Linked DNA regions of Homo sapiens. The protein of the gene in region 1 purifies or fractionates together with the protein of each later gene. This does not show direct contact. Each region holds a gene or a part of one and is shown on either strand. Other genes may lie near its edges.

The links.
Region 2: the proteins of C2orf66 (region 1) and DRC8 purify together in Homo sapiens (affinity purification with mass spectrometry; one large-scale study listed by BioGRID and IntAct). This does not show direct contact.

The regions. Positions count from the first base shown.
Region 1 is NC_000002.12:196,806,528-196,810,857, forward strand, and holds the start of C2orf66 (uncharacterized protein C2orf66 precursor), read right to left. Parts: upstream 2,829-4,330; 5' UTR 2,822-2,828; coding exon of another isoform or gene 2,810-2,821; coding exon 2,687-2,809; intron 1,096-2,686; coding exon 916-1,095; 3' UTR 897-915; intron 1-896.
Region 2 is NC_000001.11:245,080,960-245,084,780, reverse strand, and holds part of DRC8 (dynein regulatory complex protein 8), read right to left. Parts: intron 2,699-3,821; coding exon 2,619-2,698; exon of another isoform or gene 2,616-2,618; intron 1,340-2,615; coding exon 1,297-1,339; intron 1,160-1,296; coding exon 1,093-1,159; intron 842-1,092; coding exon of another isoform or gene 813-841; exon of another isoform or gene 1-812. UniProt on the Homo sapiens protein: Component of the nexin-dynein regulatory complex (N-DRC), a key regulator of ciliary/flagellar motility which maintains the alignment and integrity of the distal axoneme and regulates microtubule sliding in motile axonemes.

The DNA.
Region 1 (4,330 bases):
TTGGTTTGATAGGAATGCTAAATAATAAGAGTAATGAAATTCGCTGGGTGTGGTGGCTCATGCCTGTAATCCCAGCACTTTGGGAGGCTGAGGCAGGTGGATCACGAGGTCAGGAGTTCGAGACCAGCCTGGCCAATATGGTGAAACCCTGTCTCTACTAAAAAAAAAAAATACAAAAATTATCTGAGTGTGGTGGCAGGCACCTGTAATCCCAGCTACTCAGGAGGCTGAGGCAGAAGAATCCTTTGAACCCAGGAGGTGGAGGGTGCAGTGAGCCAAGATCACACCATTGCACTCCAGCCTGGGCGACACAGTGAGACTCTACCTCAACAACAACAAAAAAAGTAATGAAATTCAAATCTTAATAAATTTTTAATTTTTTTCTATGAGAAAAATGCCATCCTTACTAATAGTCAACCTTTTCTTCCTATAGGTGAGGAAGTTCAAGCTCAAATATATGCATAATACTTTATCCCCCAAAGAACCATACTTTCAACTTTTAATTCCCATCTAATCCAACAGCTCAATTTGACATATTTCTTTATGTAGATTTTCCACATAACTTAGCTATATCAGTTGGTCTGGAAAAAGATACAGGTAAGAGTGTGGCCATGTTATTAATTTAATAATCCTATTAAGAGATAATTCTATTATTTTAATATGTCTCTGCCTGGATAACTATGCTTAAAAAATAAAAACTGTCATTTCTTTTTAAAACAAGACTGTAAAATACCTGAACCAAATCCAAATACTTAATAGTAATGAGTATAAGCAGAACTGAGCATTTATTTCTATGAGGAAATAAAATTATGTTTTCAAATAAATACTTTCAAAATATCTACTTTATGGCTGACTTGTATGTTTGGACAGATCCAGAATAAAGGGCCAACTTTTACCTGAGCTCAGAAGAAACTTTCAGCCTTTGAGATAATTGTGAAAGGAGTTTTTCTGCTCTTCATAATCTGCAGATGCAGAAGCAGTAAGTTCTGACTGGAAAGAGAGAGGTCTAGGATTTTCATTCGTGGGGAAAGGATTTGGAAATGTTCCAAGATCAAGACCTCTGCCCTTAAAATATGCCTGAAGCCTTCTGAAAAACTAAAGAGAGAAAGAAAATGGTCAATGCCAGATATAAATGAAACACCAAAAATAAAGGTGTTTTTCTTCCCTCTATTTTTCCCCTGAATTGACTTTAAGGCTAATCTAAGAGGCAGGAAATACAAAATCTAGAAATACAAGTACATGCTTCAGCTACTTCTCCTCCCCTCCTCTGTACCTTCTTTCTGACATTTCAACCCTAACCAAAATAATTCACCATTCTTACTGAAAATTGAAGGAAGACTATGGAGCGGCACCACAGTGGAAAGATTCATTGTGAACTATCTCTGAGTACTAAGGTCAAAGGTGAAAATGAACTCCATAATAAGCAGCTCAGTATCTCCTCTTCCTTAATATGAGATCTCTGTTGTTGCCTTCTGCAATAGTTTCTTTTCAGATTTCCATTAGGAAATGAACACAGAAGATGTGCGAAGTGCTACTTGCTTTGATGCAGGACAGGCAAATCCCAAAACTGGAGCTTAGCACAGGAGGGTTCTTGGCTTTGCCCAGAAAAGAATTTAAGGGCAGGCTGGTTGTGGTAACAATCTTTTATTGAAAGGTACTGCTCCTGCCAGAACAAGGCTAATTCATAGGTAGTGCACCTAGGGCTGACAACATATGGGCTCTTATCAACTGTGTTTTTATCCACTTTTGAATATATGCAAATTAAGGGATGGGTTAATGCAAACAGAAGGGAGTTATTTAGAGCTTTCTAGGAAAGAGGTGGTAACTTTTGGGTCATTGCCATGGAAAGGAGTGGTAGCTTCCAGGTAATTGCCATGACATTTGTAAACTGTCATGGCACTGAGGGGAGGATCATATCCTAAGAGCAATGAGAGCAGGTCGGGACCACTTTTGTTGCCATCTGCTGGTTTCACCCAGTGTTTTCACTTTATCCTGTCTGGACCAGATCCTGTTTTCGTCAGCAGCTGTGACCAGAAAACAAATCCTGCTGGTCTCTTATCTCAGTTTATTTTAATCCTATGTTGTTATATTTCCCATCATTCACTTTAGAAAAACCATATTTCAAAATAGTCATGTCAACATGTTTATTGTATTTGGCATTTTTTTTAAAGAGAATGTTTACTGATCTTTTGAATTCTATTTTATAGATAACTATATGTTGAAAATATGTCCAGTAAATTGATACCCATGCAGGGTCAACTTTCAATTTTTGCAGCTGAGCTTGGCAATCTCTAGTTATATGATAACTTGTTTTATCATCAGTTCAATCTAAGCTATGCACGAGCAATTCCCTGTTACACTCTTTATTTTTTATATGTATTAGAAATCAAGGCTACAAAGTCAATGTGTATATAAGATCAGTTACAAATGAATTGTACTATGTGTGTATAAGATTGTTTCTAAATATAAATTTGTTTCTCTTTACAGAAACAAATGTAAACTGGCCAGAGAAACAATAGGTTGCCAACCACTAGGGTAGTAAAACTCTGGTCCAATCCTGTTGGAGAATTTTCTCAACCCTTGGTAGCCCCCTTTCCACTACGTTCTGGAAAACAGAATGCTGTGTGCGTAAATCCAAAGAGGCATTAGTTCTATCCTGAAACCCAGGCCCCAAGTGTGTTCTTACCAGATCTCTGTTTCTGGGGTTGTTGAGTGGCTTCCATTTGTCCTCATTTCTTACTGTGGCTCCATTCACATGCCCAAGCAGCACCAGGGCAACACATAGTAGCAGGAGAGGTGCTCTGGTCATGGTGGAGTGAAGCTGAGTGAAAGAGGGGATGCGGGAGCTGTCAATGATCATTGAGAGAGATAGTCAGGGAAGAGAGAGAGAAAGAGGAAACATCTGTAAAGGCAGACAAGGAAGGAGAAATAGCATACTGGTTTATCTAAGTTTTACAGCCATCTTTTTTCCAGATTGACTTCTAAATGAGGACCCCAAAATGCAACTGATTAGCTTAAAGTAGCCCATGATAATGAGAATGTTATACAGTGATAAGCAAAACAATTATGGAACATAACATAGAAAGTCTGAATATGCCTTTTTCATCTTTGGAAAAAAAGTACTTTGTTGTCTCCAAAGAAACTGCAACTCTTAAAATAACAAAAAACAAAACCTTAAATTACTTTTAAGCCTTAAGACAGCAGTCTTTAAAAAAAAGAAAAGAAAAAGAAATTACTTCAGATACCGAGCTGAGAAATACACCTTATACACACATCTGAGACAGACAGACACATACCACAACAGTGTGAGTAGAGATTGTCTTCCACTCCAAGGTGTGAAAGAGAAACTGAGACACATTGTAGAAAAGGCTAATAAAGCTTACCAGGAGTTTGGTTTTGGTTGGTCCTCCTAGGTTATCCTGCCTATAATTGGCAAGGCAATTCATGGGTACTTATAACCAATGGATTGGGTGCCAGTGGAAGTCACTGACTTGAGCAGGGGAGTTAAAAAATAATGATTCCTTTTTCATCCAGAACACAAAGATTCTTGAGAGTCAGATCTTCAAGCTTCTTCAGGGATAAGCTTATTTGCCTTAGAAATGCGGCAGCCACTCCTTGAACCACGAACATTTTATGTGGATTTTATAAAACACACAAAGCACTTCCACACAGCAAAGTGATTTTCTCCTTTTTTACTTTTAAGGGAAGGGATACACCTGGAAATATGATGGATTATAGCTGGAAATATGATGATGATTATCCCACCTATTAGAACGTTCTTTTGGAGATATGACTTTTTCAAGTTAACAGCATTTTTTGAACAGAAAATTCTTTTGTGAGAGACAAAATTACTCTTTTTGACCTATACCTTGTACTTTTTTCTGAGAACCTCAAGAAGCTTTACAAGTTTTAAATAGTGGCATCATTTATCATAATATCTCTTCAAAATAGAGCAAGAAGATAACACATGTTTCATGGAAAAAAGATAAATTACTATACCTACAACATTCCCTTGCTGAATAAATGCCATCTGTAGAAAATGGTAGGCCGAGAAATTGGACTTGAGTTGTGACGTTGCTTTGGTTCCAATGATTTAGAACAAAATTTAGGACAAGATATTTATTCAGAAGGCTGGTGATCTCGACTGGAAATTAGCAAACCTGGCTATAGTCTCAGTCTTGCCATCTTGACCCTGGGCAAGTTACTATGACCTCTGCCCTTCAGTTGTTCATTTCCTCTGTTTATTCATTCAGCAGACTTTTACAAAGTGCCTACTATGTGCCAGGTACTGCAACAGGATTTGAGGATGAAATGGTAAGAATAATAAATA
Region 2 (3,821 bases), on another chromosome or scaffold:
AGTCTTCCCTACTCAAAATCACTTGCGCTTTTCATTCTGCCTCAAGTGATTAGCAACTCTGAGTCATTCAGGACCCAGTCTGTGAACCAGAGAGCTCTAGCTTTGTATGGGAGAAGGCAAGGGGACCAATATGAGGATGGTTTCAGGAGACTGTCCATCAGGCTACTGACCTTCAGTGTAAACAAATTTACACATCAGCCTAGCAGAGAGAATTCCTAAAGGAAATATGTTGGCATATATATATAAGTGTGCAGGTTTTATGTGTGTGTATGCATATATGTATGATGGGCCATGTTCAAAACAAATATATATGGTTCAATTAACATTAAAAAAGGACATTTTTAGTGTTAAAAATGACCTCAGTATTCAATTGAGGCTACATTATCTGTAACTTCACTGACAGAAAAGCTCTTTAAAAGGGAATTTTTACCAGCACTGTGGGAAGCCAAGATGGGTGGATCACCTGAGGTCAGAAGTTCGAGACCAGCCTGGCCAACATGGTGAAACCCATCTCTACTAAAAATACAAAAAATTAGCTGGGCGCAGTGGCCTGTGCCTGTAATCCCAGCTACTCGGGAGGCTGAGGCAGGAGAATCACTTGAACCCAGGAGGCGGAGGTTGCAGTGAGCTAAGATCGCGCCACTGCACTCCAGCCTGGGTGACAGAGCAAGACCGGATCCGTCTCAAAAAAAAAAAAGCCGGGGCGCCGGGGGGGGGGCGGAATTTTTATATTCTTTATTCAAATCTTCAATCTAGGAAGAGGCCTTCATTTACAGTGATCGATAGTTCATGTTTTCCAGATGGCATATCTTTTATTCTGGAAATGCTCTGAATGCAATGCCTGAAATTATAGAAGTAATCACTGTGCTTCACAAAATTCTACGAGACAACAACCCATCTCCCCTTTCCCTACTCTTTGTCCTCTTAACCCCCACAGAACAGAAACCATCCCCAAGCCAAAATAGCAGGAACAGTAAATAACTTTCACCAGAATGACTGATTTTAAAGTATCCCCTATAACTTTCGCATAACTGTTAACAAATTATTAATTCCTCACATAAGTCATTGTGATAAGTAATAAATCACACTTACCTTCTTCAGTCATATACTTGATCAGCTCGTCCTTAGTAAGAAACCCACGTTTAGCTGAATCTAAAACCTAGGGGAAAAGAAAAGATAGATATTATATTTTTCATTTGGTGAATAAGTTCTACATGATAAATTTTTCATATATGTGTGTATGTAAATAAATGTATTTATATATATGTATATGCATATAAGCTGGAGTTTACATACCTCAAAAGCTCGAAGAAGGACATCTTCTGGAATTGGTCTGTATCTATAATTATGCAATAAAATGAGTAAATGCCGTGGTATTTACCGCAGTCTTTACATAATAAATCAGCAGTCTCCAACCCTTTTGGCACCAGGGACCAGTTTCATGGAAGACAATTCTTCCACAGACCAGGGGAGGGGAGGGATGGTTTGGGGATGAAACTGCTCCACCTCAGATCATCAGGCATTAGATTCTCATAAGGAGCATGCAACTTAGATCCCTAACACGCACAGTTCACAATAGGGTTCGCATTCCTATGATAATCTAATGCCAATGCTTCTCAGACAGGAGGCGGAGTTCGGGCAGTAATGCTCACTCTCTTGCTGCTCACCTCCTGCTGTGTGGCCCAGGGGTCCTAACAGGCCAGGGACTGGCACCAGTACCTGGCCTGGTGGTTGGGGATCCCCGTAATAAATGACCACATAAAACAAAATAGGGCTGGGTATGGTGGCTCATGCCTGTAATCCCAGCACTTTGGGAGGCTGAGGTGGGCAGATCATCTGAGGTCAGGAGTTCGAGACCAGCCTGGCCAACATAGTGAAACTCTGTCTCTACTAAAAATACAAAAATTAGCCAGGCATGGTGGCATGCACGTGCCTGTAATCCCAGCTACTCGGGAGGCTGAGGCAGGAGAATTGCTTGAACCCAGGAGGTGGAGGTTGCAGTGAGCCAAGATGGTGCCACTGCATTCCAGCCTGGGTGACAAAAGCGAAAGTCCATCTCAAAAATAAAATAAAATAAAATAAAATAAAATAAAAGCTGCTAACATACTGGGATGATAATACTTGCCTCATTGAAATCTTTTTGGATTTCTGGATATGAAAGTTGAAAATACCTCAGCCCCACAGGAAATATTTAGTGCAAAATCACTGACATGTTTGAGGTTATCTATTAGCTTTTTGGACATCAATTTATCTGGGCACAAGACTTCTATGATGAACCAACTATGGTAAGCTAATGCTATATTTTTGCTAGAAAAATATTAGGATTCTTATTTATCATTGATAATTCAAAACAGAAGATACTAAGAATGTTGATTTACGATCTTTATAGCTTATTTACCCTCTAATTATGCTTTGCTTAGGATAACACTAGTGTGGTTGATATTTCTAAGCAGGTACCAACTGCCAGTTCAGAAGTAGCTTGAAAGGTTAGAGGGAGGCCACCTTAGGACACACTGCTTGAGTATAACACACAAAGTGAAAAAGCCAAGCGTCCTGAAATGAATGGATTCATAATTCTGACCATTACTTTGCCTTAACAATTGCATTTACTTACTTACTTTCTTTCTAGTAGTATTTCTGTCATCACCGGAAGAAATTTTTCGAATCGAATGTATCCAGTGGGTTCTTCTTCCTCTACCTAAACATTCAATAAGTAAATAGCCATTTAGTCATTCAACAAATGTATTCAGCAACTAGTTGTTCCAAGCACTGTGCCAAGTGCTAGAGACTCTGGATGGTGAGCACACTTGGGCGTGACCCCTGCTCACAGAGATGGTCCTTTACTTTATCTTTTTAAGATTTACCTTCATCATTCAACTGGAGCACAGCTGATACTCTGATCAGGGAGACAGACATTAATCAAGAAACAGCAACCAAAGACACTGTGAACTGATGTAAGTACAGTGAGGGGAAGGAGCATGGGTCTGTAAGAACAGCCAATAAAGAACACTCGGCCGGGCGTGGTGGCTCACGCCTGTAATCCCAGCACTTGAGGAGGCCAAGGCAGGCAGATTACTTGAGGTCAGGAGTTCAAGATCAGCTTGGCCAACATGGTGAAACCCCGTCTCTACTAAAAATACAAAAATTATATGGGCGTAGTGGCGCACACCTGTAATCCAAGCTACACGGGAGGCTGAAGCAGGAGAACCACTTGAACCCGGGAGATGGAGGTTGCAGTGAGCCGAGATCGCACCACTGTACTCCAGTATGGGCAACAGAGCGAGACTCCATCTCAATAAAAAAATAAAAAATAAAAAAATTGCCGGGTGCGATGGCTCACGCCTGTAATCCCAGAACTTTGGGAGGCCGAGGTGGGTGGATCACGAGGTCAGCAGATGGAGACCATCCTGGCTAACACGGTGAAACCCTGTCTCTACTAAAACTACAAAAAATTAGCCAGGCATGGTGGTGGGCGCCTGTAGTCCCAGCTACTCAGGAGGCTGAGGCAGGAGAATCACGTGAACCCAGGAGGCAGAGCTTGCAGTGAGCCGAGATCAGGCCACTGCATTCCAGCCTGCGTGACAGAGCGAGACTCCGTCTCAAAAAATATATATATATAGATAAATAAAAAAATAAAAAATAAATAAAATAATAAAATAAAATAAAAATAAAAAAATAAAGAACACTTCTTAGACCAGGAGACCAGGGAAGTCATCCATGAGGAAATAACACTCCAGCTGATTTAGAGAGTATGAGTAGAAGGTAATGAGACAGAGACAGCAGGGGAGAGACAGTCACCTAGAGGAAACTGAATACGCGAA